Regions from separate parts of the Homo sapiens genome. Here regions 1 and 3 are each linked to region 2. The links come from fine-mapping of genetic effects on gene expression. A gene starts in region 2. Each other region holds a variant in brackets. All regions are shown on one strand. Distances are between the middles of the regions.

What was found. PIP is the estimated chance that this variant, and not a neighbour inherited with it, causes the effect.
Region 1: its variant is the best candidate, but not a certain one, in a credible set for the expression of DAAM1 in fibroblasts (GTEx, PIP 0.51).
Region 3: its variant is the best candidate, but not a certain one, in a credible set for the expression of DAAM1 in non-classical monocytes (Schmiedel 2018, PIP 0.59).

What each region holds. Positions count from the first base shown.
Region 1 is chr14:59,394,592-59,405,472 of GRCh38, reverse strand. No RefSeq gene overlaps it. Among named protein-coding and RNA genes, the nearest start is that of GPR135, 65 kb to the left of the region's middle. RefSeq lists an enhancer at 9,352-9,861. The variant A/G (reference allele first, on the strand shown) is at 6,481.
Region 2 is chr14:59,182,747-59,193,627 of GRCh38, reverse strand. It overlaps DAAM1 (dishevelled associated activator of morphogenesis 1), which reads right to left and starts at 4,961. Exons shown (of 25, transcript NM_001270520.2): 1 at 4,860-4,961. LOC107984642 (a long non-coding RNA gene) reads right to left here. Exons shown (of 2, transcript XR_001750928.1): 2 at 9,381-9,965. RefSeq lists enhancers at 3,329-3,378, 3,809-3,968, 3,679-4,438, 5,219-5,458 and silencers at 4,329-4,548, 4,609-4,748.
Region 3 is chr14:59,160,134-59,171,014 of GRCh38, reverse strand. The region is part of intron 1 of LOC107984642 (a long non-coding RNA gene); the gene reads right to left. Among named protein-coding and RNA genes, the nearest start is that of DAAM1, 23 kb to the left of the region's middle. RefSeq lists an enhancer at 146-315. The variant G/TTTTG (reference allele first, on the strand shown) is at 6,090.

The DNA.
Region 1 (10,881 bases), 210 kb before region 2:
CAGCCTGGCAGGGGGAGGGGCGTCCACCATTGCTGAGGCTTGAGTAGGTAAACAAAGCAGCTGGGAAAGTTCGAACTGAGTGGAGCCCACTGCAGCTCACCAAGGCTGGCTACCTCTGTAGACTCCACCTCTGGAGGCAGGGCATAGCTGAACAAAAGGTGGCAGAAACTTCTGCAGACTTAAATGTCCCTGTCTGTCAGCTCTGAAGAGAGCAGTGGTTCTCCCAGCACAGTGTTTGAGCTCTGAGAACGGACAGACTGCCTCCTCAAGTGGGTCCCTGATCCCCGTGTAGCCTGACTGAGAGACACCTTCCAATAGGGGCCAACTGACACCTCATACAGGTGGGTGCTTCTCTGGGACGAAGCTTCCAGAGGAAGGATCAGGCAGCAATATTTGCTGTTTTGCAATCTTTGTTGTTCTGCAGCCTCTGCTGGTGATACCCAGGCAAACAGCGTCTGGAGTGGACCTCCAGCAAACTCCAACAGACCTGCAGCTGAGGGACCTGACTGTTAGAAGGAAAACTAAAAAGCAGAAAGGAATAGCATCAACATCAACAAGAAGGAAATCCACACCAAAACCCCATCTGTAGGTCACCAACATTAACGACCAAAGGTAGATAAAACCACAAAGATGGGGAGAAACCAGAGCAGAAAAGCTGAAAATTCTAAAAACCAGAGTGCCTCTTCTCCTCCAAAGGATCACAACTCCTCGCCAGCAATGGAATAAAGCTGGATGGAGAATGATTTGATGAGTTGACAGAAGTAGGCTTCAGAAGGTCAGTAATAACAAACTTCTCTGAGCTAAAGGAGGATGTTTGAACCCATTGCAAGGAAGCTAAAAACCTTGAAAAAAAGATTAGATGAATGGCTAACTAGAATAAACAGTGTAGAGAAGACCTTAAATGACCTGATGGAGCTGAAAACCATGGCATGAGAACTACATGATGCATGCACAAGCTTCAGTAGCCGATTCAATGAAGTGGAAGAAAGGGTATCAGTGATGGAAGATCAAATTAATGAAATAAAGTGAGAAGAGAAGTTTAGAAAAAAAAAAAGAGTAAAAGGAAATGAACAAAGCCTCCAGGGAATATGGGACTATGTGAAAAGACCAAATCTACGCTTAATTGGTGTACCTGAAAGTGACGGGGAGAATGGAACCAAGTTGGAAAACACTCTGCAGGATATTATCCAGGAGAACCTCCCCAACCTAGCAAGGCAGGCCAACATTCAAATTCAGGAAATACAGCGAACACCACAAAGATACTCTTCGAGAAGAGCAACCCCAAGACACATAATTGTCAGATTTGCCAAGGTTGAAATGAAGGAAAAAATGTTAAGGGCAGCCAGAGAGAAAGGTCGGGTTACCCACAAAGGGAAGCCCATCAGACTAACAGCGGATCTCTCAGCAGAAACTCTATAAGCCAGAAAAGAGTGGGGGCCAATATTCAACATTGTTAAAGAAAATAATTTTCAACCCAGAATTTCATATCCAGCCAAACTAAGTTTCATAAGTGAAGGAGAAATAAAATCCTTTACAGACAAGCAAATGCTGAGAGATTTTTGTCACCACCAGGCCTGCCTTACAAGAGCTCCTGAAGGAAGCACTAAATATGGAAAGGAACAACCAGTACCAGCCACTGCAAAAACATGCCAAATTGTAAAGACCATCAATGCTAGAAAGAAACTGCATTAACTAACGAGCAAAATAACCAGCTAGCATCATAATGATAGGATCAAATTCACACATAACAATATTAATCTTAAATGTGAATGGGATAAATGCCCTGATTAAAAGACACAGACTGGCAAATTGGATAAAGAGTCAAGACCCATCAGTGTGCTGTATTCAGGAGACCCATCTCATATGCAGAGACACACATAGGCTCAAAATAAAGGGATGGAGGAAGATCTACCAAGCAAATAAAAGCAAAAAAAAAGCAGGGGTTGCAATCCTAGTCTCTGATAAAACAGACTTTAAACCAACAAAGATCAAAAGAGACAAAGAAGGCCATTACATAATGGTAAAGGGATCAACTCAACAAGAAGAGCTAACTATCCTAAATATATATGCACCCAATACAGGAACATCCAGATTCATAAAGCAAGTCCTTAGAGACCCACAAAGAGCTTAGACTCCCACACAATAATGGGAGGCTTTAACACCCCACTGTCAATATTAGACAAATGAACAAGACAGAAGGTTTACAAGGATATCCAGGACTTGAACTCAGCTCTGCATCAAGCGGACCTAATAGACATCTACAGCCAAATCAACAAAATATACATTCTCCTCAGCACCACATTGCACTTATTCCAAAATTGACCACATCACATAGTTGGAAGTAAAGCACTCCTCAGCAAATGTAAAAGAACAGAAATTACAACACACTGTCTCTCAGATCACAGTGCAATCAAATTAGAACTCAGGATTAAGAAACTCACTCAGAACTGCACAACTACATGGAAACTGAACAACCTGCTCCTGAATGACTACTGGGTAAATAACAAAATGAAGGCAGAAATAAAGATGTTCTTTGAAACCAATGAGAACAAAGACAACGTACCAGAAACTCTGGGAAACATTTAAAGCAGTGTGTAGCGAGAAATTTATAGCACTAAATGCCCACAAGAGAAAGCAGGAAAGATGCAAAATTGACACCCTAACATCACAATTAAAAGAACTAGAGAAGCAAGAGCAAACAAATTCAAAAGCTAGCAGAAGGCAAGAAATAACTAAGATCAGAGCAGAACTGAAGGAGAGAGAGAGACACAAAAAACCCTTCAAAAAATCAATGAATCCAGGAGCTGGTTTTTTGTAAAAATTGATAGACTGGTAGCAAGACTAATAAAGAAGAAAAGAGAGAAGAATCACACAGATGCAATAAAAAATGATAAAGGGGATATCACCACCAATCCCACAGAAATACAAACTACCATCAGAGAATACTATAAACACCTCTACACAAATAAACTAGAAAATCTAGAAGAAAAGGATAAATTCCTTGACACATACACTCTCCCAAGACTAAACCAGGAAGAAGTTGAATCTCTGAATAGACCAATAACAGGCTCTGAAATTGAGGCAATAATTAATAGCCTACCAACCAAAAAAAGTCCAGGACCAGATGGATTCCCAGCCGAATTCTACCAGAGGTTCAAAGAGGAGCTGGTACCATTCCTTCTGAAACTATTCCAATCAACAGAAAAAGAGGGAATCTTCCCTAACTCATTTTATGAGGCCAGCATCATCCTGCTATGAAAGGCTGGCAGAGACACAACAAGAAAAGATAATTTTAGACCAATATCCCTGATGGACATCAATGTGAAAATCCTCAATAAAATACTGGCAAACCGAATCCAGCAGCATATCAAAAAGCTTATCCACCACGATCAAATTGGCTTCATCACTGGGATGCAAGGCTGGTTCAACATATGCAAATCAGTAAACGTAATCCATCACATAAACAGAACCAACAATAAAAACCACATGATTATTTCAATAGATGCAGAAAAGGCCTTTGACAAAATTCAACAGCGCTTCATGCTAAAAACTCTCAATAAACTAGGTATTGATGGGACGTATCTCAAAATAATAAGAGCTATTTATGACAAATCCACAGCCAATATCATACTGAATGGGCAAAATCTGGAAGCATTCCCTTTGAAAACTGGCACAAGACAGGGATGCCCTCTCTCACCACTCCTATTCAACATAGTGTTGGAAGTTCTGGCCAGGGCAATCAGGCAGGAGAAAGAAATAAAGAGTATTCAGTTAGGAAAAGAGGAAGTCAAATTGTCCCTGTTTGCAGATGACATGATTGTATATCTAGAAAACCCCATCATCTCAGCCCAAAATCTCCTTAAGGTGATAAGCAACTTCAGCAAAGTCTCAGGATACAAAATCAATGTGCAAAAATCACAAGCATTCCTCTACACCAATAACAGACAGAGAGCCAAATCATGAGTGAACTCCCATTCACAATTGCTTCAAAGAGAATAAACTACTTAGGAATCCAACTTACAAGGGATGTGAAGGACCTCTTCAAGGAGAACTACAAACCACTGCTCAATGAAATAAAAGAGGATACAAACAAATGGAAGAACATTCCATGCTCATGGATAGAAAGAATCAATATTGTGAAAATGGCCATACTGCCCAAGGTAATTTATAGATTCAATGCCATCCCATCAAGCTACCAATGACTTTCTTCACGGAATTGGAAAAAACTAGTTTAAAGTTCATATGGAACCAAAAAAAAATCCCGCATTGCCAAGTCAATCCTAAGCCAAAAGAACAAAGCTGGAGGCATCACGCTACCTGACTTCAAACTATACTACAAGGCTGTAGTAACCAAAATAGCGTGGTACTGGTACCAAAACAGAGATATAGACCAATGGAACAGAACAGAGGCGTCAGAAATAACACCACACAACTACAACCATCTGATCTTTGACAAACCTTACAAAAACAAACAATGGGGAAAGGACTCCCTATTTAATAAATGGTGTTGGGAAAACTGGCTAGCCATATGCAGAAAACTGAAACTGGAGCCCTTCCTTACACCTTATACAAAAATTAACTCAAGATGGATTAAAGACTTAAACGTAAAACCTAAAACCATAAAAACTCTAGAAGTAACCATCATCACTGGTCTCTACTAAAAATACAAAAATTAGCTTGGCGTGGTGGCAGGCGCCTGTAGTCCCAGCTACTCGGGAGGCTGAGGCAGGAGAATGGCGTGAACCCAGGAGGCGCAGGTTGCGGTGAGCCGAGATTGTGCCACTGCACTCCAGCCTGGGTGACAGAGCGAGACTCTGTCTCAAAAAAAAAAAAAAAAAAAATCTTACTGACGTAACACAGCATGATGATCATGTGCAGTTATATATCTAAAGGAAAAAGACATCAACAGAAGACATTGATGGAGCATCTAGAGTGGTGAGTAAATGCTAAGCTTTATTAGAATGTATCCATCACTGTCCAAGGATCAAAGAACTTGAAATATTACAGTCCCATCAGCAAGGCTATTAGTAGAGTCGGCAAGGGTTTCTTCTGCAAATTAATTTAACTGTGGGAGAGTCCTTTAGATTATTTATATTTGTTTTCTTTCATTTTATTTTATCATTTTCTAAATTTTTCAGTTAAACTTTAGTTCATTTTTAGTCATTTCTCTTTTTAAGAAATGAAGGCATTGACAAACATACCTTTGTCTTAGTACGGTTTTGGCTGTGTTCTATAGGTAGTGGCTATAATTTTATATGTAGCAATCTTATACTTATTATTTTATAAACCGGAATTGCCAGATTTAGCAATTCTGGCAGTTCTCCAGTTAAATTAGAATTTCAGAAAAACAACAGATAAATGTCTGGTGTAAGTATGTCCCAAAAGTTGCATGAGACATACTTAGACTAAAAAATTACTCAATATTTGTCTGAAATTTGAATTTAACTGGGTTCCTATATTTTATCTGGCAGCCTTATAAAAAACAGATCTTCGATGTTGTTTTGGTTAATTTTTGACTCAATATTTTTGGAGAATTTTTTTCCAATTGATTGTGATATTTTTTGTTTAAACTTTTCTTATTAAATTATATATTTTTGGTGTGTATATGTGGCTCAACTTTAGGTATTACCATAGGTGGCTACTCTCCACTAGGCAATGTCTGGAGACATTTTTGGTTGTCATGACTTGAGAGTGGGAGAGTATTGATTGCACTAGCATCTAATTGGTAGAGGCCAGTGATGCTGCTAAACATCTTACAATGTACACTGTAATATGAAACCCCCACAACAAAGAACTATTTGACATAAAATATAATAGCTGTTGTTGAGAAACCCTGCCATAAACATTTGAAAATAGGGGTTTATCTTTTCAAATATATCTTTGTTTAAATTAGATCTATTAAATCCATCTCATCAATTGTTTTATTCATATCTTCTCTATTTTTTTCATCTTTGGCCTATCAAAGAAAGAGAATGACATACTGAAGTCATTCATTCAATTTAATAAACATATATTGAGATACCCCAGTATGTCAGACCTTATTCTAACTGGGAATACTCAGTAAATGAAACAGACAAACATTTCTGAATTCATGGAGCTTATATTCTAGTGTGTGGGATAGGATCAGGAGATGTAATAAACAAATTTTATGCAAAATATATGATGATAAGTGTTACACAGCAAAACAGAGCAGAAAATAGGGATGGGTTCTGGGATGGGGACATGAATTGTAATTATAAATTGGGTCATGGGGAAGTTATTACTGAGGTCACAGTAGAGCAAAGACCTGGAGGAGATGACAGAGAAAGTGATGTGATATTTAAGAGAAGTATGTTTCAGGCAAAGGAAACAGAAATGCCAAGCCTCTGATGTGGGTTGGTGCTTGGTATGTTCTAGGAAGAAGAGGAAGCCAGTGCGGCTGAAGAAAAGGGAGGAAGAGGGGAAGTGGTGGGGACAAGGTCAGAGGGCTGATGGTGCTGC[A/G]CTGGTGTTCAGATCATTTAGGGTGGAGGAGGCCATTGTGAGAACTGTGGCATTTGCTTCTGTGTGAGATAAGGAGCCACTGGAGAGTTCAGAGTAATGTGGTTTTGTATACATTTTGAAAGCCTCACTTTGGCTGTTGTGTTGAGAATAGACCATTGACAGGAGACGGGAGGGCAAGGCTGAAGCAGAGAGGCCGGTAAGGAGGCCACTGCAATAACCCAAAAAAGAGATGATGATACTTTAATGAGGGAAGTAACAGTGGAGATTGTGAGGACAGATCAAATTCTGGATTGTAGGTAGAGCCACAAGAATTTGCTATGGGAATGTGTCTGGGCTGTGTGAAGACAGACGGAGTTAGTGATGACCTCAAGGTTTTAGACCAAAGGAAGTAGAAAGATGGAGTTGCTATCATTTAAAATCTAGCAGACTAGAGTAGGAGCAAGTTTAAGACAGATCAGTTCGATTTTGAATGTGTTGGGTTTGAGATATCCACTAGACTTTCTACTTCAGAAATTGAGTAGGAAGTTGGACATATAAATCCAGAGGTCTGGACTGGATACGTAAATATCTGAGTTGTGAGTATACATATGAGATTTAAAACCTCCTATGTATAATTTTTTACTCTATAATATAAAAACTTCAAATAAAAATATTTGAAACTCAATTTTTCTGATTTCAAAATGAAAATGAAGCCAGGTGTGGTGGCTCATGCCTGTAATCCCAGAACTTTGGGAGGCTGAGGCAGGTGGATCGCTTGAGCTCGGGAGTTCAAGATCAGCCAGGGTAACATGGCAAAACTCTATCTCTACAAAAAATGCAAAAAGTAGCTGGTCATGGTGACATACACCTGTGGTCCCAGCTACAAAGGATGCTGAGGCAGGAAGACGGCTTAAGCCTAAACGGTTGAGGCTGCAGTGAACCATGATCCTGCCACTGCACTCCAGCCTTGATGACAGAGCAACACCCTGTCGAAAAAAAAAAAAAAAAAATTAAAAAAATGATAACATATCTCCCAACTATGCCCTATAAAAAATTGGGAAATTGTCTTGCATTTACTTCAAGATTTATTCCTTGAGAGTTTTTTATTCTGTGAAAGTACCTATATTTATCCATTTCAGAATTCTTAAATTTTATTAATGTTTTGGTTGTCCAGAATATACAGAGTATATGTTTAAGAAACTTAGGAGGAAAGGGGCCAGGCATGGTGGCTCACGCCTGTAATCCCAGTACTTTGGGAGGCTGAGGTGGGTGGATCACCTGAGGTCAGGAGTTCAAGACCAGCCTGGCCAACATGGTGAAACCCTGTCTCTACTAAAAATACAAAAATTAGCCGGGCGTGGTGGTATGCGCCTGTAATCCCAGCTACTCAGGAGGCTGAGGCAGGAGAATCACTTGAACCTGGGAGGCGGAGGTTGCAGTGAGCTGAGATTGTGCCACTGAACTTCAGCCTGGGCAACAGAGTTAGACTCAGTCTCAAAGAGAAAAAAAAAAAAAAAAAAAGAAAAAGAAACTTAGGAGGAAAGGGCATATGCAGGATTCTAGGATCTCTAAGGGGATCCCCAATAAGTAACACCTCTTTTTCTCTCTTTCTCTTCTGGGTTTTGAACAAATTGAAGAAAGACAGATGGGAGATGTTATGGACCTAATTTTTTCCTCCCAAAATTCATGTATTGAAGCCCTAAGACCCAATATGACTATATTTGAAGGGAGGGTCTTTTGGGAGATAATTAAGGTTAAATGAAGTCAAAAGGGTGGAGCCTAATCCAACAGGATGGGCGTCCTAATAAGAAGAGGAAGAGACACTGGAGTGCACTCTCTGTCTCTCTGCACGCAAAGAGAAAAGGCCAGGTGAAGGCAGCAAGAAGGTGGCAGCCTGCAAGTGAGGAAGACAGTCCTCACTAGAAACCACCCTGATACCTTGACCTTAAACTGCTAACCTCCAGAACTGTGAGGAAGTAAATTTCTGTTGTTTAAGCTGCCTAGTGTGTGGTATTTTTTTTTTAAATATTATTATACTTTAAGTTTTAGGGTACATGTGCATAACGTGCAGGTTTGTTACATATGTATACATGTGCCATGTTGGTGTGCTGCACCCATTAACTCATCATTTAGCATTAGATATATCTCCTAATGCTATCCCTCCCCCCTCCCCCCACCCCACAACAGTCCCCAGTGTGTGATGTTCCCCTTCCTGTGTCCAAGTGTTCTCATTGTTCAATTCCTACCTATGAGTGAGAACATGCGGTGTTTGGTTTTTTTGTCCTTGTGATAGTTTGCTGAGAATGATGGTTTCCAGTTTCATCCATGTCCCTACAAAGGACATGAACTCATCATTTTTTATGGCTGCGTAGTATTCCGTGCTGTATATGTGCCACATTTTCTTAATCCAGTCTATCATTGTTGGACATTTGGGTTGGTTCCAAGACTTTGCTATTGTGAATAGTGCCACAATAAACATACGTGTGCATGTGTCTTTATAGCAGCATGATTTATAATCCTTTGGGTATATACCCAGTAATGGGATGGCTGGGTCAAATGGTATTTCTAGTTCTAGATCCCTGAGGAATCGCCACACTGACTTCCACAATGGTTGAACTAGTTTACAGTTCCACCAACAGTGTAAAAGTGTTCCTATTTCTCCACATCCTCTCCAGCACCTGTTGTTTCCTGACTTTTTAATGATCACCATTCTAACTAGTGTGAGATGCATTTGATTTGCATTTCTCTGATGGCCAGTGATGGTGAGCGTTTTTCATGTGTCTGTTGGCTACATAAATGTCTTCTTTTGAGAAGTGTCTGTTCATATCCTTTGCCCACTTTTTGATGGGGTTGTTTGTTTTTTTCTTGTAAATTTGTTTGAATTCATTGTAGATTCTGGATATTAGCTCTCGTGTGTGGTATTTTGTTATGGCAGACAGCACGCTAACACAGAAGATTTTTTTAAAATTGTACTTTTATTTGATAGAAGCCTGGTTGGAGGATGTAGCTTAAAATGAGAACAACTAAGCCTGCTAACTGTGCCCTAGAAAAAAGCAGCCCCCCCACTGCAAGGGGTCATGGGCTCACAGCAGGCCTCTCCATGCGGCAGAGCCCTTCTGAGCATCTTGTTCTCAAGAGAAAAAGGTCAGAATGAGATTAGCGTAACCTGTTGTTATTCTGAAATTTACCAATCCCTAGGGTAGACTGAGTAAATGGGTAGGGAGAGGCCAGAAGAAAACTCAGTCCTCATGGGAACTGGGAGAAGGGAAAGAATTCTCCCTCTAAAAACGTGTGTGCTTTCTGAGCTCTTGTGTGTTTGTGTAACAGAGGACAAAGTCAAAAGGGTTTGGCACTTCCTGGTGGGCTCCAACTTCTTTTCTTCTTCCAAGGGGAAGGACACTGCGGGGAGGGCTGGCAGGGTGTTTAAAATCCCTTTAGGGCATAACAATTTAGAGAACTTTTTTATAAAGGGTTAGGTACTGAGGAGTATAATACTCGTTCAAATGGTTGTTTATTAGGGCATAAATACTAAGCCATAAGGGCCCCTTAGAGTACACTTGTTTCCATCAGTCATCATTCATATTTCTGTTGTCAGTTAAGTCTCATCCTTCTTCCCCTTCTCTTCTCTCCCCTCCTCACATCACTCATTCTTTCCCTCGGTCCCTCTCTCTCTCTCTCCCACTCCCCATCCTTATCCTTTGGAGTCAATCTCCTATAAATGTCTTGTTGTAATAAAAAAAAATCAAGAGGTATTTTGGGGACCTTACTTTGCCACCCCCAAATCTTCTCAATTCCTATAAGCCACCCCAAGTATTACACGATTTAAGTACAATTAGTATGCTTGCTCTTCGTTTATTCAGGTATCCATCCATTCATTCCACACACATGGGCTGAGGGCCCACATGTACTGGGTACTTTTTCCAAATACTGAATATTCCAATAAACAAAATAGGTTAAAAAAACTGCCTTTGTGAATCTTATACTCTAGTATGGGATGAGGGGACAGATAATACACAAAGTATACAAATTAGATGTGTGTGTTAGAAAGCAAGTCCTATGGCAAAATAGAGCTGCATACGTGAGATTGGGATTGTAGGGACAGGGGAATTTTAAGTAGGGTGGACAGAGCAGGGTAGGCCTTACTGAGGAGTCTTTTGAATGAAGACCTGATGGAAGCAAGAAAGAGAGTCCCACGGAAAATGAGGGGAAAAGCATTCTAGTCCGAGGGAGATGCAGTGCAAAGGCTCTGAGGTACACACCTACAAAAGAAAGCAAGGAAGGCTGGGCTCAGTGTCTCACACCTGTAATTCCAGCACTTTGGGAGGCCAAGGTGGGCGGATCACTTGAGGTCAGGAGTTTAAGACCAGCCTGGCCAACATGGTGAAACCCTGTCTCTACTAAAATTACAAAATTTAGCTGGGC
Region 2 (10,881 bases):
AAGGCTCTGCACACTTGTTGCTGTGCTTCTAGGACTTAACATTCAGTTCATTTTTAGACACATGTTCTATGTATGCAAACTTGTGGACTATGAATGCAAACTCTCCCTGAAATGCTCTGTTCTCCCCCTGCTCCTAGAACAGTGGAAAGGATACTAAAAAATTAAAAGGTAACCTTTTATTTCTGAAAAAAAAAATCTGCTGGATGAAATATAGGTCACTAAAATCAACTTGAATCTCATGTTCGTCTGTCCCTGTTTCAGTGGGGCTACAAACAAGGTGACAGCTCAGAGAAAGGGGGTGAACTTCAGATCCACACTTCAACGCTGGTCTCTATCAGCAGCCTCAGCCACTCTAAATAATATAATCTACATAAAAGACAGTACACTTGCTAAGTGAATGCATCTTCAAGAGGGGTATCATCCACCCTAGCCTGATCTGTCAACCAGACATTACCTCCAAGCCACATACAGAAATAGAGAAAATGCTCTCAGTACCAGTTTCTTAAATAGTACCTGTGCAATCAATTTCCTCTAAACTTTGAGGGTTTTGTTGTTGTTGTTGTTGTTGTTGTTTTGAGACGGAGTCTCGCTCTGTAGTCCAGGCTGGAGTTCAGTGGCGCAATCTCCGTTCACTGCAAGCTCCGCCTCCCTGGTTCAGGACATTCTCCTGCCTCAGCCTCCTGAGTAACTGGGACTACAGGCACCCGCCACCACACCCGGCTAATTTTTTGTATTTTTAGTAGAGACGGGGTTTCCCCGTGTTAGCCAGGATGGTCTCGATGTCCTGACCTCATGATCCTCCCGACTTGGCCTCCCAAAGTGCTGGGATTACAGGCTTGAGCCACCGCGCCCGGCCTAAACTTTGAGGTCTTGAAACCACTACAACAGATGCTGTGCGTACTTAAGATTGGTATTCACTTAGAATATTACCTCTATTACCAAGTTAGAAATTGTAATACCAAAATAAGTCACCATATTCCTCATCCAAAGAGGAAAAAATCACAACAGAATATAGAACTTCTATTTTGACTGGTGTCCCCTCTAGAGAGAAAACAAGTTTGCTAACCCAAGTTGGACACCTTGCTTTGTTTCCGGCAATATAAGGATAGACTTAACACTGGAAATACCAGAGCACGGCTTGAAGCCAGGGAGGGCCCCACAGCAGTTACAAGCTCTGTGATTATTTCCTGAACCAAACACCTAGGGCACTCAAGGATACCAAGCTTTGTTGGAAAAGCATGTTTCCTCTGGTCCAACAGCTGCAACTTTAAAGTGTTTTCACACAAGACCTCAAGTTTCTCTTTATGCCATCTCCCAAATATTTACAAAATGAAACACTTTCAATCAGAACTTTTGCTTGTAAACACCTTATTTGTTTTAAGGACCATAGTGCCAACACTAAAAGCAGCCTTTTAAACAAAGTAGCTCAAAACCACACACACACACACACACACACACACACACACACACACACACACCCCTTAACAAGCAGAACATGTCCACAAAACAAGAAAGCCAGGATTCAAATTCCTTAGCACCTATTCATGGAGCTCCTGTAAGCACCACCCAAGGATGTGACCCACCACACCCTCTTCATTATCACACCTCCTCACTAATTTACTAATTTATGCTCCTGAAAACCCACAGAATCAGACTACTGGATGGTAACATGTTACAAATATTGGGCAAATGTTCTTTCACATTTCTTTCACATCAACCAGCCTGAAACAACTGATCCTGTTTACGGAACGGCTCTGCCTCAGGTGAGAGGACTATTGTCTCCCAGCTCTTCTGGGAGACACTGGTGGCCTGGCAAAGGCTTCTGGGTATCTTTCTCTTGGTGTCTCTCCCTATTCACGTGTCACACACCTCCTGGGAAGATTATCTGGGCCAAGGATAGTGCAACTGAGAGAAATCTAGAAATGCCTGGTTCAGGGGTAATAAGAAATTGTAACTACAAAGAAACAGTCGATGTGAGTGAATGTATTCTAAAAGCAAATAATTAGGAAATATGTCTATTTCAAATACATAGAAGGCCTTTTATGCCAGACAAGTTTTGGTTTATGATGAAATGAAACTGCTTGATAGAAAAGCTAAGGGGAATATTACCACGGATGACAGAACTATCAGTGGAAATAATAGACCTTGGATCTCCAATCATAGTTCTGCTACTTAATATTCGTTTAACATATATTTATTAAAGACCTACAAATGAACAAACTGCTCTAAATGCTGGGGGGACAGAAAAGGACAAAACAAAGACACTGCCCTCAAGGAGCTTATAATCTAGTAGGGTAGACAAGCAGAAGAATGAAGGAAATTTTCATTTAATGGTAAGTTCCAGGAAAAAAGTGACAACTTCTGATCCTGTTTCCTCATGGGGATGTAGCTACCTACTTAAAATAAGATCGTAAGTGTCAACCACCAAGCACACAGCAATCCCAAGCATTTACCTGACTATGGATACACATGCACAGACACTCTCATATACACACTTTCCCCCATAATTGCAACATCTGTGATAATGCACATTGGTATAAAATGCAAGCAGAGGGGAAACAAAATATTTATATGTCAATTACACTTAATGCAATTACAAATAACTGCATTCATTAGGAATCTATAAAAAGGCAAAACCTAAACAATTAGTTATAATACTAAAGTATAATTAGAAGGGTCCAGATACTGGAATAATAGTAGTGGTAGTATAAACAGTATTATAAATAGTCACATAGCTGCCTTGTCCATATAACCTGACGGCACAGTATCAGAAGCCAAGTTTAAACCCTTAACTTCAGATTACTTTGGGGTCGGGGACGAAAAAGGACAATGACCAAGTCTATCTTGGAATCATAGGCCATTGCGCCTAGAATTAACGTTAGGAAACCCTCTCTACCCTTTCCTCACATTACCAAAGAGAAGACTGAGGTTCCCAGAGGTAAAGGGTTAATCCCAACGTGGAGTAGCCAGTGACTGACAGAGCCAGAGTAGGACCCAAGGCTCCTGGTTATGGCCCTGCATGCTTCACCCTCAAGGACCTGCGCCCTCTAGCCTGGCTTTAGATTTTATGAGAACCACAAGGGACTGCAGTGTCTTCCAGCCGTTATTAATTGTCCCTAATCACTTCCAATCAGCTGCACCTAGAGCAAATTGAGGGCCTTTGCTGGTGACCAGAGAGCTCTCTTTATGCACAACAGGGGAGGGCGCCTTTCATGACAAAGCTGCCTCCAACACCATAAACTACCTTATTGGGGAAATGATGCGGCTAGCCCGAAAGGGGGAAGAGATTTTTCAAATTATAATTTTCAGAGTTTGCCTCAGGAAAAAGGCGCCAAACAATTAGTTTCAGGGAGAGAGGTGGCGTGATGAGGTGTGGCACGGGGAAGGGAAAGGGGTTTAGAACTGTGTCCAAGCTATTTAGGAGAGAAAGGGGAGAGTCCCGGGGCTGTGAAAGGGGCGAGGAGGAGAGAGCAGCTGGGCCAGGGCGAGCGTTTGACCACACCCACTAGCCACTCCCTCCCAGCTGCCCGCAGAGCCACATCGAATCGAAACAGCAGTGGCAGCGGCTAAGATTCCGAAGGCAGGAGTCGCCATGGCAACGGGATTCATCTTGCAGGCAACTCCGCTTCGATTCACTGGGTCCTGCTCGAATCTCAAGAAACTACCAGCAAAACGGTCACGGTGGCATTTGCTCTTGATGCTCTCCAGAAAGTGGAGATGAAGGAGAGGGGAATGGAGTTCAGGCATCACTAAATATGTTATGGGGCGAGAGGTAGCTCCGCAAAGCCAGGCCGTGAACAACTTGAGACCTTAGCAGGGTTTGATGAATGAGTAAACGAACAAATGAAGGTACTAGGAAAGGCAAAGAACATCCAGAGGACTGAGAGCTCTGGGCCTCCTGCACGTCTCCACTCAGAGGGCAAGCCGATCACAAGCAGTTGGCTTTCAGAACCAGCTGGGTAAACCCGATTATCCAGCCCTCCTGCCCCACAGCGAGCCTAATCATTAGATTATCCGACACCTCCACCCCCGCGCTACCACCTCCTGGCCCAGGGCTTCAGGGCAGGCGCTTCGCCCCAGCCCAGGTGCTCTACACCAAGGGACCGTGGAGACTGAGATGCGCCCTCCCGAGAGGGACGGGCGGCAAAAGCCCTCTGCGGTGCCTCACAACCGGGTCCGCAGGCGGCGCAGCCTCCCCGGCCGCCAACACCCTGCTCTCCCTCCGCAACGCCCGATTTCCCTTCTCTCTGTTTTGAAACATTTAGGTCCAACTTAGTCTGAATTACAGGCGCTCCGTCCCTTTCGAATGGGGCTGGAAGTGAGGGTGCCAGGGGCACTGGGGGCTCTGCTCGGACGCGAACGGGTACACGAGTCCCTCCTTCCCTGTCGCCACCGCCGTGTCCACCAAGCCTGCCTCGGGGTTCTCCCTCTCGGAGCCGCCGGGCCGGGAGCTCGCGGACGCCGCTGCAGTACCCGCGGCCCCAGCCCCGGGGAGCCTTCAGCAAGGCGGCGAGTGTTACCCCGCCAGCTCCTCGGCCAGCCGGGCGCCTTAGAAAGAAAGGGAGGGACCCCAGTCCTTGGGGGCGTCTTCCTCCCTGCTGCCTCGGTTTGCGTTGCGCTGCAGCCATTTTCCCACCCCCAGCTAGGCAGCCGAGAGCTGTCTCGGTCCCGTTCCCACCCAGACCCAACCTGAAGGACGGGTTTAATATTTACCTACTGGCCCGGGAGCTCCGGGGAGGCAGCAGGAGGGCGCGCCGCGAACCCAGCGCCCAGCCCACGGAAGCACGCCCACCCCCGCACCACTGAGCAGTGCCACTTAATGAATGAGTGCGGCGGGCAAGGAGGAGCGTCCCCCTTACCTGAGCAGCCCCTGCATGCTGGAAAGGCGGCTCTGCACTCTGGGTACAATGGGATCCGGTTAAACAGTTTCCTTCACAGCCGCTCGTAGGTTACTAACTCGCAGGTGACATCACCCTCTCCTCGCCTGATAGGATACAAAGTGGCTCCCACTGCGCATGGACGCTCCGGTCGGGCGCGCAGACTCCTGGGAGTAGTGGTCCCAATCTATTAGCGGAGCCGGGACAGCTTTGCTGTCGGGACTCGCGGAACTACATCTCCCGACACACTCCTCCGCCCTTCTGCCCCGCCTCTTATTCCCGCCCCCTTCAGGACCCGCCCCCTCCCAGCCTTACAGCCTTGCAGTGTTAGCGGTGGTCGTTCCGAAGCCGAGCTGCGGACCGCACGGGAGAGTGGGAGGGCTGCCCTGCGGTCGTGTGTGTTGACTTGACCTCTACTTTGCCCGGCGCGGGCTCTGAAGGATCGGAGAGGTCCGGGGCTCGCGTGGTCCGGCCAGGCTCGCTCTAACTGGTCTTTCTTGGTCCCTGCTGGGAAGGGACGATTAAGACTTTTCTGCCTTCCCCAGGCGTAGCAGCTAATTCAGAGGGCTTACTGTTTTCTGGGTTAAATACGGTCCTCGAATTCTCCCCGCTCAACACTTCCAGAGGATGGGGCGACGCCGGTCCCAAGGCGGAGGAATCTCCTTGTACCCCCTCAATTCACCTTTCTCTTTTCTGCTTCCCGTTTAACGGAGACAAGGTGACCAGGCAGAACGCGGGGAACCACTTAGTCGGCTGAGCTGACAGAATAACGGAGGTTGTCACTACCAGAAGTGCGGTGTGATAGACTAGACAGTCGCCGCAACCCTCCGTCAGGGCGCCTGCTGCTGCTGCAAAGATAATACTATCGTGCAGCCATGCTTTTGTTCATCCCTGCAGCAGACTTCCCGCGCTGGTGGCTCTCCACTCCCAGGAAGAAAACGTCCTTGTCTAAAGTTTTAATAATTGTGTATCTATGTATACACATGTTTTTAAATCCACAACACTCTCACCTCATTTTCCATACCTTTTCAAATATTTTTATAAAGACATTAAACCAAACAACATCGTGCCGTTCAAGAATTGCCCTGCTCTTAACACACCTAAATATTTATTTAAAGGTAAGCAAAAGGTGTGTAGCAGAATTCTGACCCTTTAGGCAGGTTGTATTGTTAATACATAATTTTTTCCGTGGCATTTTTCATTATTCAGTGAATACCAAGTGTCTTTTAATATGAAAAGAATCAATGCATTTAGTTACTCGAGTTGTAAATGTAAATTTTAATGGCATTTGATGTGTCTCAATTCCATATAATGATCAGCTCACACACCCGTTCCACTAGCAAAATCTCTAGAAGACTGTGCATCTTGTGAAAAAAAGGTTCACAATTAAGATTTCAGACAACTCCCTACTGAAGTGTTGGTGGAACTCTTATCATTTATTTTCTCCTTTCATTCTGCAACACTAAGTTGGGTTCAAGTGAAAAAATATTTATGAAATTAGTTGAGGATCTCAGGGGAGAGGAAATGCTTTGTTTTGCTCAGAGAGATGTTTAGCGATGAATTCTGATGTTCTTTTAACAAGCCTGTTCTTTATAGACAAGACCCACTTTTCTCCCCCGAAAGAAGATAGCTTTGAATGTTGCTCTTCTGTCCTCAGCTACTTCTTCCATTTCAAATATTATCTAAAATGAACTCTGACAATATAAATTTTCCCCTGGCCATCAGATCAAGGATATAATCACTGATATTCTAACTAATGGGTAGACTTAATGTAACGCAGTTCATGGTGGAAAAATATTCAGAGAGAAACTTGACCTGGGATGATTCTAAAGGCTCTTCTAATTTTATAACTGTGTAAAGCTTTTAGACTGAAACATAATCAGTGAGCCTGAAATTTATTGAGTCAATAAATTGAATGTGGAGCCTTTCTGTTAAGACAGGGCTTATCCTTGTAGATAAAAGTATGTTACTGAGGCACACTCTGAGGAGTAATTTTAATGGAGAAATCACCTTACAACAAGTTCTCTTGGCTCTTCAGTAATGAAGGAGAAGATGCAGTCTGTCTGAAAACAAAAATTCCATTCTCTTTAACAATATTATAGGGATGTGCCATGTGACATAGTCATCTCCATATAAAGGACAGCATACACAATAGACTGTAAGCACATAAATGTGGAGAAATGCACATGTGAACTGCTCTTCCTATCTAATAGCTATAAATATAGATAATAGATGTAGAAAGAGGGCATTGTGTTTGGAAAAATTATCTGCAAGTGGTGATGGATTTGAACTGATCCCTGCACAGTTTCATTGGTAACCAAGGGAAACAAAGATGGCTCTTTAACATGAGAAATACAGTCTGTAGAACTAGCAGCAGAGGAGGCTTAACCACTTCTTTGGAGACAGAAGGAAACTCACACACACACTCTCTCTCACTCACTTTCATACACAATCATTGTGTATGTTTGCATTTAATTTTTTCTAGGTGGCCAAGTAGTCTCATAAATCATCAAAAACACCCACTCTGTCTAGCTAATTGATATTCTCAGTCAAAATGGGTTTCTTTACTTTCTATCTTTTCATTTTACATAACTGCTGCTGTTCTGAAGACCTTATGAAAAGCCCTGCCTCATCCCATAATCGTGGCCTATTAATTAGGAACCTGTGAGACCACTAAGAACAGATTTGACAGTCTATACAGGTAGGGGATGAGGAGAAGGCACCACGAAGCATTTTGATGATCTTTTAAAATCACCTCTCTCAGTGCTGGTTATAAGGTTTTACTCTAGATACTGGATTTTAGATAAAGGAGGAAATGAGTTATCAACAGAGAGAAAGAAATGAAAGTGTGTAGCCTTGCGTGTACTTTCATGCAATAGCTTGGTGTTTTGCAACAATCAAGGTTGTATGCTAAGCCCAGGTTTGGGATTGTGCCATTCCATTATTTGTGATCCATGTTACTTTGCATATTTGTGTTATTTATTCTCTCTGAGCCTCAGTTTCCTTATTTATAAAATAGGGTTAATAATAATATATATTTCATGAGGTTTTTGAGGATTAAATTAAATGAAGCATGTAAAAATATTTTTCAAACTGAAAAGCACTATACAAATGTTAGTTCTTGATATCATTTGCAATTTTTCCCAAAAGATTATCTCAGAAATGTCAGGCCTAATTATGGAACAAGGTAATAAAAACCCATTTAAATTAAAAATTCTTATTCTTAACAGAGACTATTAGAAAGAATATAGCATGCACATATTATCTCACTCTAATTGGTAAGTAGGCAAAATGTACTTTGAAGACTAAAATGAGAAATTCAGGGTTGAACAGTGCCAGTCCTTGACTTGTTCTCAGATCTATATGTTCTTCCTCAGGATCCCCTGCTGTCCTCAGTAACATAGGGAGCTTTTCCCAAGCTTCCCAGCATGGAGAGGCACTGCTGGGGGATTGTAGGCAGGAGGAAGAGAGAAGCTAGGGAATTTCTTCACTTCCTCAGAGGTGCATTGGGTGATGTTTCTGGCAGTGGCAGCAGCATTTTCCTTGTTGGACTGGTCTGTCATGGTTCCAGCTTCTTCCAGGTCACCCTGGCCTTGTAACACCACCTTCTCCCTTTGTCCCTCTTGCCTAGCGGTAGAGATAGCTTCCTGCTGTTGCTAATCTCTGCGTTGGGTGTTTGGCTTCACAGATCTTCTATCACAGTATGGCCAATTCTCTGGACCACATTATCTCTGTTTTAAATACTACTTAGAATCGTTTCTGTTTTTTTGGTGGAACACTTTAACTGACATACTCACACTTTAGTTAAAGTTCTTTTAGGGGCAGACAACAAGAACTTTCTATGGCCAGTTTATGCAAAACAAAGAATGTAATGGGATTTATTCAAAGGATTAGACAACCAAGGCTCAAGACAAACAGGAACTGGACAAACTAGGAACCTAAGCAGTGGTAGTTTTCAGACCTCTCCAGAGCACTGGTCTACTAGCACTAAGACTCCGAGCTCTTTGTTCCAAATTTCAAATTCCTGAGAGAAGCTTATTGTCCTATGTCAGGCAACAGTCCCTGACTTAATTATCTTAAAGTACAATCCCCAGACCAGCAACATCAGTATCACCTGAGAACTTGTTAGATATGCAGATACTTGGGCCACACCTACACACCTACTGGAAAAGAAGCTTTAGGGATGGGTCCCACCACATGTGTCTTCACAAGTCCTCCAGCTGAGTCAGACACACTTGAATGTTTTTGAACCATGGATCTACAGCAAGCGTAACAAGATTGTGTGGCTCAAATATGATCACTCAGGACCTATCCCCGTGTGTCTGGGAGTCTTCTCAAAAAGGAGAAAGTGTGAATCTGGAAGCCACCCCAAGAGGTGTCAGTTAAAGCTGGTAAATCTATCAGGATCTTAATGGTAAAACTTGGTTCTTCCTGAGGGAGAGGACTTTGTAGCATTCTGAGCCAACTATTCAGTTTAGTCACTAAAAAGGCACTTGGAGGAGATTCATTTCACTGTGTTTAATTGAGAGCTCAGAAAAACTGAAAAAGCGGCATCGGAACAGAACAAGGGAGATGGAGTCATACAGAAACGTGAGAATGGCAACAATACTAAGGTTAGGCACAGTAAGTGGAGGGGTGAAAATACCTCCAGCCACCCAAAACTCTCTCCAGACCAGTCTTATTTGAACAGCTCCTCGGAGTTCAGAAAGAGAAACTCTCCTTTGACATATTTTAGCCGGTCTTCCTGTATAAGCTTCTTCGTAACTGGCTTACTCTTAGTCCATCTGTGAGACCTGTGCTGTTCAATTCTGTAGTCACTGGCCTCATGTGGCTATTTAAATTTCAATTAATTAAAATTGATGAAATTTTAAAACTCAATTACTCAGTCACAGTAGCCACATTTCAAGTGCTCAAGAGCTGTGTGAGGCCAGTGGCTACCATACAGGACATCACAGATACAGAGTATTCCCATTACTTCTTCAGAAAGTTCTGTTGGACAGCACTGCTACACATTTGTTCACTAATGACTGTTTAGATTCTTTCATGCTGAAATCCACCTTCTTTTCTTCTTCTTCCCCAAGTCAAATTCTGAAGAGAGAGAAAATGAAGAGACAAAGAGAAAGGATATATAATTGTTCTAGTTCACCAACTGAAGCTAGAACATATAATAAATCACTGGCCATCACGAAAAAGACAGCCCAACTAATGCTTAAATTCATTTGTCAGCAGGAAAATATAAATTAAGACTATAATGGGATACCACTACATACCCATCACATTGGTTAAAATTAAAAGGACCAACTATACTAAGCATTGCCAAAGATAAGAAACAAATCTTACACTGCTAGTGAAACTGTAAACTGGTAAAACTGCTTTGGAAAAATCTTTATTAGTATTTGCTAAGCATGAGCATACACATCCTTTATGGCTGAGCAATTTCACTGCTAGCAATATACCTAACAGAGTTGTGTATATGTGTTCACCAAAAGTTACCTATTCAAATGTTCATAGTTATGCTATTCATATATTCATACATGTATTCATATAGCCTAGGGTTGCCATACAATATTTGGGATATACTTACACTAAAAATATTTATTGTTTGTCTGAAATTCAAATTTAAGGAGACATTAGGTATTTTTATTTGCTAAATCTGGCAACTCCATGATAGCCCCAAACTAAAATCAACACAGTTGCTCATCAACGGTACAGTGGATAAATAGATTGTGGCATAGGCACATAATACTATATCGCAGGGGTTGGCAAACTTTTTTCTGTAAGGGGCCAGATAGTAAATATTTTAGGCTTTGAGGGCCATATGATCTCTGTTACAGTTACTCAGTGCTGCCATTGTAGCATGAAAGCAGTCGTAGACATAAAGGAATGAGTATGGCTGTGTTCCAATAAAGCTTTATTTACAAAACAGTCAGCTGGCCTGTAAGCCTGTAAGCCATAGTTTGCCAACCCGTGCTATCTGGCTATGAGAATTAACAAGCTATGTCTA
Region 3 (10,881 bases), 23 kb after region 2:
ATGATACATATTGTATGTACATATATTTAGCTTTATTGAGATATATTTTGCATACCTTAAAATTCATCCACTTAAAGTGTATCATTCAGTGACTTTTAGTATATTCCTAGTTATGCAACTCTCACCACAAGCTAATTTTAGAACATTTCATCACTCCTAAAAAATACCCTATACCCCTTTAGCAGTCAGTCCTCATTGTCCATTCCCCTTAACCCCTGGCAACTACTAATTTACTTTTTTTGTCTACAGTTTTGGCTATTCTGGACATTTCACATAAATGGAAACATACAATATGTGGTCTTTGTGACTGGCTTCTTTCATTTAGCATAATGTTTTCAAGTTTCATCCATATTTTAGCATGTATCAATACTTTATCCCTTTTTATGGCTGAATAATATTCTGCTGTATGGATATACTACATTACTTTTATCCACTCATCAGTTGATGGACATTGGGGAGGTTTCTACTTTTTAACTGTTATGAACAATGCTGGAGCCAGGTGCGGTGGCTCACACTTATAATCCCAGCACTTTGGGAGGCCGAGACAGGCAGATCACCTGAGGTCAGGAGTTCGAGACCAGCCTAGACAACATAGGGAAACCCCATCTCTACTAAAAATACAAAAATTAGCGAGGCATGGTGGTGTGCACCTGTAATCCCAGCTACTCGGGAGGCTAAGGCAGGAGAATCACTTGAATCGGGGAGGCAGAGGCTGCAATGACCTGAAATTGCACCACTGCACTCCAGCTTGGGCAGCAGAGCAAGACCTGTCTCAAACAAAACAAAACAAAACAAAACAAACAAACAAACAAAAAACAATGCTGGTATAAACACTTATGTACAAGTTTGTGTGTAGACATATGTTTTCAATTCTTTTGGAGATGGAATTTCTGGGTCATATAGTCACTCTATGCTTAAGTGCCAAACTGTTTTCCAAAGTGGCTGTACCATTTTACACTCCTATCAGCAGTGTATGAGGGTTCAAATTTTTCCATATCCTCCCCAACAGTTGTTTATATTATTTTTAAATAACAATTTTTTAAATTGTATTTTTAAAATTGTAGCTATCTTAGATTGTGTGATAAGGTATCTCATTAGGGTTTTGATTTGCATTTCCCTAATGATTTAAGAAGGTTAAGCATCTTTTCTTATATTTAGTGGCCATTTGTATGTCTTTGGAGAAATGTCTATTCAAAAGTTCTTTATATATTCTGGATACAAGTCCCTTCTCAGATATATGATTTTCAAATATCTTCTCCCATTGCTTGGGTTATCTTTCACTTTCTTGATGGCATCTTTTGAAGCACAAAAATATTTAATTTTAGTGAAGTCCAATTTACCTATTTTTCTTTGGTTGCATATGCTTTTGGTGTTGTATATCTAAATCATTGCTTAACCCAAGGTATATTAGTCTGCTCTGGCTGCCACAACAAAATACTAAATACTGTGTGGCTTAAACAACAGAAATTTATTTTTTCACAGTTCTGGAGGCTAAAAGTCCAAGAACTAAAGTGCCAGCAGAATTGGTTTCTGGTAAGGCCTCTCTTTTGGACTTCTAGATGGCTACCTTCTCACATGACCTTTCCTCTGTGTGTGTGATGAGAGAGATAGCTCTCATGCCCTTTCTTCTTCTTATAAAGATGTCAGTCCTATTAGATAAGGGCACTACCTTCATGACTTCATTTAACTTTAATCACCTCCTTCAAGACCGTATCTCCAAATGTAGTCATATTGGGAATCAAGGCTTCAACATACAAAGTTGGAGGGGAACACAATTAAGTCTATAACACAAGGTAATGAAGATTTACTTCATGGTTTCTTCTAAGAGTTTTATAGTGTTAGCTCTTACATTTAGGTCTTTGATTAATTTTTAGTTAATTTTTGAGTGTGGTGTGAGGTAGGGGTCCAACTTCATTCTTCTCCTTCATTCTTCTGAATGTGAATATTCAGTTGTCCTAGTACCATTTCTTGATAACACTATTATTTCCCCCATTGAATTGTCTTGACACCATTGTTGAAATCAATTGAATATCAAGTTAAGGAGTTCTGGGACTTTAATTTTTTTTTTTTTTTTGTAGAGACAGGATCTTGCTCTGTTGCCCAGGCTGGAGTGCTGTGGCATGATTTTGGCTCACTGCAGCCTGTAACTCCTGGGCTCAGTGATCTTCCCACCTCAGTCTCCTGAGTAGCTAGGACTACAGGTGCATACCACTATGCTCAGCTAATTTTCATTTTTTGTTTTGTTTGTACAGAAGGGGCCACACTATGCTGCCTGGGCTGGTCTTGAACTACTGGCCTCAAGCAATCCTTCTGCCTTGGCCTCCCAAAGTGCTGGAATTATAGGCATGAGCCACTGTACCCTGAGGAGACTTTATAATGTTACTATAGCAATTATTGTGTTTACTTAATGTAATAGAATGTAAGCTTCCTGAATCCAGAAATTGACCATGTATGATGATGGAGGTAGAGCATAATGCCCAACATAAAATTGTACTCAATATGTGCTCAATATTTAAATATATATTATGTTTTCACTGTTAAAATGCAAATGATACCTGGGAAAGGACATAATTCTGTAACATGAAATAAGTTTCAGATTAAAAGATAACAAATTCTAGGAAAGGAGACACAGGATAGATGGGTTTGATGGATGAGAAGAAAATATCTTTAGCATTTGATTTTGCTTGGCTAAAGGAATACCTTGGCCAATTAGCCATGCACGTTCTGGTGTTGGGTCTTTGAGAGGGGCTGTGACACTAGAAAAAATACAAATTAGGATATGACAGGAAGGAGCTGAAGAATAATTTACCTAATTGACAGCCTTATCAAGGGATCATCCATTTTGGGGGAAGGCAAAAATCGGAAAGTTGTCAAAGGAGATTTGCCCTTTTCTTTCTTTCTTTCTTTCTTTCTTTCTTTCTTTCTTTCTTTCTTTCTTTCTTTCTTTCTTTCTTTCTTTCTCTTTCTTTCTTTCTTTCTTTCTTTCTTTCTTTCTTTCTTTCTTTCTCTTTCTTTCTTTCTTTTTCTTTCTGAGTGTCTGTCTGTCTTACTCTGTCACCCAGCTGAAGTGCAGTGGTGCAATCATGGCTCACTGCAGCCTTGACCTACCCAGGTTCAGGTGATCCTGCCATATCAGCCTCCCGAATAGCTGGAACTATAGGCATGCACCACCACATCCAACTAATTTTTGTATTTTTAGTAGAGTTATGTTGCCCAGGCTGGTCTTGAACTTCTGGGCTCAAGCAATCTGCCACCTCAACCTCCCAGAGTGCTAGGATTACAGGTATGAGCCACTGTGCCTGGCCTTGGCTTTTCAATTAAGATGGGATCATGAATACTTGAGAAACAACCCTTGAGTATTTACTTAATTGAAGTGAATATGATGGTTAATTGTATGTGTCAAATGGACCGGGCCAAGTACTTGGTTAAACATTATTTTGTGTGTCTGTGAAGATATGTTTGGATGAGATTAACAATTGAATTGATAGATTGAATAAAACAAATTACCCTCCCAAATGTGGATGGGCCTCATTCAATTTATTGGAGCCCTGAATAGAATAAAAGGGGGGTAAAGGCAAATTCATTCTCTTAGCCTGACTGTTTTTGAGCTAGGACATTAATCTTCTCCTACACTCAGACTGGAATATACACCATGGATTCTCCTAGTTCTTAGACCTTTGGATTCAGACTTGAACTATACCAGCAGCTCTCCTGTGTCTCTAGCTTGCAGACCACAGGCTGTGGGACTTCTCACCTCTGTAATTGTGTGAGCAAATTCCTTATAATAAATCTCTTTCTATACATATGTGTATGTGTGTATATAGCCTATTGGTTCTGTTTCTCTGGTGAGCCCTGACTAATATAGACAATAACAAGTTTAAAAATAAACATAGAGGTAATACAATTAAGAATCACAGCTCTATTGTAAGTGCAAACACTAATACAATTTTAACATACTTTATAGCTTCATTTAAGATTCAGGTATTATAAATCAAGGGAAACAAAATCCACTTGCCAAGTTCTGTTTTTCAAAATCATTTCAGCATTTCTTACCTCACTGTTAATGTGTGGTACTTTAAATTGTCTTCAGAATCAGTTGTAATCTCTTATTGGTTGACTCTTAATGAGTTGAATAAAATTTTTTAGTCTGGGCTTGGTGGCTTATGCCTGTAATCCCAGCACCTTGGGAGGCTAAGGCGGGCAGATTACGAGGTCAGGAGATCAAGACAATCCTGGCTAACACGGTGAAACCCCATCTCTGCTAAAAATACAAAAAAAAAAAAAAAATTAGCCGGGCGTGGTGGCAGGTGCCTGTAGTCCCAGCTACTCGGCAGGCTGAGGCAGGAGAATGGCGTGAACCCATGAGACAGAGCTTGCAGTGAACCGAGATGGTGCCACTGCATTCCAGCCTGGACAACAGAGCGAGACTATGTCTCAAACAAACAAACCAAAAAATTTTTGTGTTAATTTTATATTTCTTTGAAAGTCATGATTTTATCTTCTTTTCTTTCTTTCCTTCTTTCTCTCTTTCTTTTTTCCTTTCCTTTTCCTTCCTTCCTTCCTTCCATCTTTCTTTCTTTCTCTTTCTTTCTTTCTTTTTCTTTCTTTCTTTCCTTCTTTCTCTCTCTTTCTTTCTTTTTTTCTTTTTGATGGAGTTTCGCTCTTGTTGCCCAGGCTGGAGTGCAATGGCATGATCTTGGCTTGCAGCAACTTCTGCCTTCCAGGTTCAAGTGATTCTCCTGCCTCAGCCTCCCAAGTAGCTGGGATTACAGGCATGCACCACCACGCCTGGCTAATTTTATATTTTTTAGTAGAGACGGGGTTTCTCCATGTTGGTCAGGCTGTTCTCGAACTCCTGACCTCAGGTGATCCGCCTGCCTCAGCCTCCCAAAGTGCTGGGATTACAGGCATAAGCCACTGCACCCAGACGATTTTATTTTCTTTCAAAAATTATTCTTGGCCAGGTGTCGTGGCTCATGCCTATAATCTCATCACTCTGGAAGACTGAGATGGGTGGATTGTTTGACACCAGCCTAGGCAACATAGTAAGATCCCATCTCTATAAAAAATAAAAATTAGCCAGGTGTCATGATGTGTGCCTATAATCCTAGCTACTTGGGAGGCTGAGGTAGGAGGATTGCTTGAGCCTGGGAGGTGAGTGAGCCATGATTGCACCACCGTACTCCAGCCTGAGTGAGAGGGCAAGACCCTGTCTCCAATATATATACATTCTTTAACACATGCAACACTAGGAATAGAGTCTCCCTACTTTATGTCATATGATTTTTGTGCACTGACAGCACTCACAGGATGGGAAACAATAATTTTTCTAAACTGCCGAATAAAAATTCATTTTTATCTTTTCACTCTTTTCAGCACCTCCTCTTCCGAAGGGTATCATTAATTATCTCACAGTCACCTGCTTTAGGTACTGGAAATAATTCCTGTCTGTAAACCTTCAAAAGGGAAATTAAAATTTTTAACATAGTAACAGATTTCAGTTTTGTCCATCTTAAAAGTAAGATTATTTTATCCCTTAGTTTTTTTCTCTTCATGTCTCAACTCTCTTGGCTTTGCTCTTAAGATTTTAATTTCCAAAGGCTCTTTTGTTGTTGTTGTTGTTCTCTAAATTTTTTTTTTTTTTTTTTTTTTTTTTTTTTTTGAGACGGAGTCTCGCTCTGTCGCCCAGGCTGGAGTGCAGTGGCGCCATCTCGGCTCACTGCAAGCTCCGCCTCCGGGGTTCACGCCATTCTCCTGCCTCAGCCTCCTGAATAGCTGGGATTACAGGTGCCTGCCACCATGCCCGGCTAATTTTTTGTATTTTTAGTAGAGACAGTGTTTCACCGTGTTAGCCAGGATGATCTCAATCTTCCTGACTTCGTGATCCGCCCGCCTCAGCCTCCCAAAGCGCTGGGATTACAGGCATGAGCCACCGCGCCTGGCCGTTCTCTAAAATTTTTATAGCATTCTGTTCTTGTTTCATGGGTATGGTATCTTCCGTAATCTCAGTTATAATATTAATCATGATTTTTAAAGAGTTCTCTTTGCCCTATTTGTATCTCCTTAAAGTTGTTTTTTTTTTTTTTTTT[G/TTTTG]GTATGTTTTTATGTTTGGGGCTCAGTCTTTCATGTTGGGAGCTTTCCTCAGAGGGCGGCAATCACTGGGTGCTTACGTTTGAGAGCAGGGAACTGAAAGGTGCTTTAGAAGCTCTAGGTATGTTGTATTTACCTGGCACTTCTTCCCTTCCCACCCCTATCCAACCCCTTAACACACTTTCCACTCTCCCCTACTCCTAATCTGGTTGATTTGTCTTTCTCTCAAGATTCAACTCGAGCATTGACTCTTTTTGGAAAGCATTTTTGGTGTCCCACTCTGCTGTAATACTTTAATATACCCCTGTTACCACTCCACATAGATTGTGAACTGCTTGAATGTAGGGACCCAATTCTAGCTCTCCTTTGTGCCCCACTATGTATGGCATAGTCACATACATATTGCCAGTGCTCAGTAATTGTTTGTGGAGAGAATGGATGTATGAATGCTCACCTCCACCATGCACTTTATGTGCATTACCTATTTTTATCCTCACAATAACTCCATGCCATTCTGCTTTTTTCATGGTTTGTCTTCAAATGCGGAAATATGGGAAGAAAAGACAAACAACTGATAAAATGTTGAGTTAAGTGAATGTATTGATATGCAAACGAACAGCCTTTATATTGCCATGTAGGTTTAAAACAGAGATGTAGGCTGGGCGCGGTGGATCATGCCTGTAATCCCAGGACTTTGGGAGGCCGAGGTGGGCAGATCACAAGGTCAGGAGATCGAGACTATCCTGGCTAACTCAGTGAAACCCCGTCTCTACTAAAAATACAAAAATTAGTCGGGCATGGTTGTGGGTGACTGTAGTCCCAGCTACTCAGGAGGCTGAGGCAGGAGAATAGCTTGAACCTGGGAGGTGGAGCTTGCAGTGAGCCAAGATCGTTCCACTGCACTCCAGCCTGGGTGACGGAGTGAGACTCCATCTCAAAAACAAAAAACAAAACAAAACAAAACAAAAAACAGAGATATAAATAAGGGAATGAAATTGATGAGATAGAGAAAAGGCTTAATATGTACCTGGCACTGTGCTAAGTAAGCAATTTGTATACTTTACCTGTTATTTCTCAAAAAATCCATTAATTTATAGATGAGAAGTTAAGGTTCAGAGAGATTGAGTACTTTGTGCAGTTCAAACAATTATGTTTTAACATCAGATCTCTTTGGACCCCAAGCCTATGCTTGTCGGTGGATCAAGACAGGGAGGGTGTTCACTTTGGTGGGAATTTTGGTACCCTAACAGGAGGAACCCCTCTCCAGCTCACCCAAGTCCCTTGTGCCTGCACTTAGTGCCCTTATGTACTTTTTATTTATAATGTTGCTCTGCTTCTGGACCAAGGCTGTCAGAAGAGCCAGACAAGCAGCCTAAGTCACTTGTAGTGGAAACCCCTGATTTGGTTCTCTGTTTCCACCCTGGTGAATATCTGAACTGCTCAAGGCATAATGCCTTATAAATGCCAACTTTGTATTTATCAGCATGCTTCTTAGCTATAGCAATCAATAAGACATACCCTTCTTTTGCTAATGGCTACATTAAGAGGCATCTGTCCCTTTGCATTAAGGAATCACGTTATACTTGTCTGCCAATTGACCGAAATAAAGTATTTCCAGTAGCTGTATCTCTTAAAATGCTGCTGCTTTTCCTTTGGATTTGATACTAAAAATGCAGGTAAGATCAACAGAATGAGACTCCTAGTTCGCTCACCTCACCCGCTACTTACATTGGCACTGACCATGGGTCGAAACTAATAAATAAGCTTTTCTGGCATAAATGTCATGTGCAGCACTTCAGACATCTAGGAAAGTTCTAGAACTCTTTTCTACAAGCCATTTCTCTACTTAGCACTGTCAAAGAACTCATCCAAATATGTGATTGAACCCAGGAGCCCGAGGAAATTGAGCATTTGTGTTATGGATAATAATTTTTTATATTTTTTATCCCCACATCATTGGATGTAGGTCCAACTTAATTTGAGTAGGTCCAAGGCTAGACTACAGTTACGATCTTCATTAGCAAAGCAATATTGTATATTCTCCTCATCGCTGATTAATGGATTGTTTCCTTACATATATTGTAACTTTCTCTTTTTTTTTCAAGCCATTAATCATTTAACCTTACCCTCAGGCATGAGACAGGGTTTTATTTTTGTGCTTCTTAAGAGTATTCTTTAGACAGAATAAGTCATAAAAGCTCAAGTGCATTCATTCTCTTTTCAATTTGTGGATTTAATCCACCATAAAGCATTCCGACTATATAAAGAAATGAACCGTGTTAAAAGCAAGTATTATTAATGTGATACTTCCTCTGGGCACATTTGCCAACCAAAATATTAAACTTCCTTTAAAGAAATTCTTGAGAATTATTAGTTTGTCATTCAATTAAGGGTTTACATGTGTAAAAATATTCCAGCCATGATAATATGCCCTGCAATGTAATGTCAGATGTAGTTTTCCAAAAGGGATATTCAGGGGTCTATAATTTCCCATATTTTGGAGGTGGCCTAATTTTTCTCAATTAATAGAATACTAGAAAAGTGTGCTTTTAGCATTTTAGGCCAGTATTGGATACAATAGTCCATGTCCCTTTATGTTGAAAACATGAATGCCCAAATTGAATAGTTTCTATTTACCACTTTTCTGTTTGAACGTGTGGCCCACATCTGCTAGAATAATAAATGAAATACTAACTAAAATGTTTAAGCCCAAATAAAAATCACTACCCCAATTTGTTTTCTGTAAATGCTCAGAGTATTAATTCTAGCTCCCTCTCCCACCCTGTTCCCTTCCTCTTTCTTTACTTAGAACTAAACATGAAAAGTCATCTGTTCTTTTTTAGTCTAGAAATAGAAACCACCCTCCCACCCCATGCTCAGCCCAGGGAAGGTTACGGTGAGTTTGTGGCTGAGCAATGCAGGGGCTGACCCCATCTATGCTCCTGGAGGGGGATGGACAGGCACTGCCGACACAACGCAACAGCTGTTGCAGAACAGTCTCTTTCCCAGCAGAACACGGAGGGAACTGAGTCTCACTAGCTGCACTGGACATCTACATTTTAGTTTCTCCGAAAGGACAGGTGGTCCTAATACAGCCTGTCTCCAGCCCACCCTTTTCCCTTTTGTTCCTGTGAACATTGGTCTGCCCATCCCCAAGTGGTGCGTTAGTCATTCAAGGCTTTGGGGTGAAATATGATGCAAGAGGAGGAAGGGAAATCTTAGACACAGAACAAAGCCATTTGAGAGCTGTCACATCAGCCTAGGACTTTGATTTTGTGTGTTTTTGTCTTAAACACTGGTTGCTATAGCTACCGTGAGCAACACACATAAAGGAGCCAGGCAGTGGCTTTTCAGAATTGTGTAATACATTTTCTTTTTGAGCTTTTCTTGCACTGAATGTCAAGTCAAGGATACCTACTTTAATTAATGGTTAAATTGGAGTTGAAGATGAATCGTAATTAAGTACCTGACACTGATCATCTACAACCTCAGAGTAAGATTTTCAGTACTTCAGTTTTCTGCCAGATGTAGAAGTGTGCATGATACAGTTAATCAGGAAGAGTCTCGGAAACCCATTTAAAGCTTATTAACATTGATATTTATTCAGTTTTAAATACCCAGTGTCGGATTTATTCTGTTAATTTCAAGAAACAATTGGTAGGAATCACCCTTTGCTCTTCTTAAATGATTAGATAAGTATTTTTTCCATATCATTAGACATTGCAAAGGTTTAAGAGTTCTTGAACCGTGGAATCTTATGTAGAAGTTATAACGACTCTTTATAAAAGCTGAAGATCAACCTGCAACTTTCGATATTTCTCTACTTTATAATCTACTTTCTCTTTAGTGGCCTGCACACTGACTAAATAGCCATTGCAAACTCTTAATTTCCCTTTTGCTGAATTACCCTGCTCTCTGATCAGAGGCCATACTATCTGTGAAATTTTGCTTCAGAAAAGCCTGCACTGCAAAACCAAACAGTACAGAGATGTATAAAAGATCTCCTCAACCTTAACAGAGAAGCAAAAAGCAAAACATCTTCTTTGCTCCTGATGGAAATGATTACCAATTTAAGATTTCCCACAGAGAAGCCTCTCTCCATGATGCATGGAAAAATTTCCAGAACATAATCTAATAATAGCAAAATAAATAGAAATACTAAATAAATATGCCGACAAACCCATGGCTGATATCACTAATGGAAATCCAGAGTGCTGACAGTATGTGGGTTTTTCCTGTGACCCAGAGCATGTAAGAGGTATACACTCAATCTCAGTGATATCATATCGAGGTGTGGAATGTCACTGTGCTTTTCCATATGGAAAAAGTGAGGTACAGAAAAGGGATACGGCTTGTCCATGGTTATCTCGCACACAGGAGAGTTTATTACGGAGGTAAGCACCCTAGTGTTTGGCTGAGGCTTCTAATATATTGCCTGTTCTAGCACGTAAACTCTTTTTACTGTGAAGCCTTATTATGCTTTTCTTACATCTCACTGAACCTAGTGAGGTGATCAGGAAATAATTATTCTCATAATAGCTTTTAAAATGTATGCAAATAATACATATTCATGATAGAAAAAACTGAAATTATATTGTAGAAAAAAGAAAATAAAACTCAACTGTAATTCAATCACTTGCATTTTAGTGCATATCCTTTTAGCTATTTTCCTTGGCATATTCATTGTCTATATGTATATATAATATATAAACTTTTCTTTTGCAAGAATGAGACTGTACAACATAATTTTATTCTTTTCTTTTTGGCACATTTAGACTGCTAATATGTAAATATG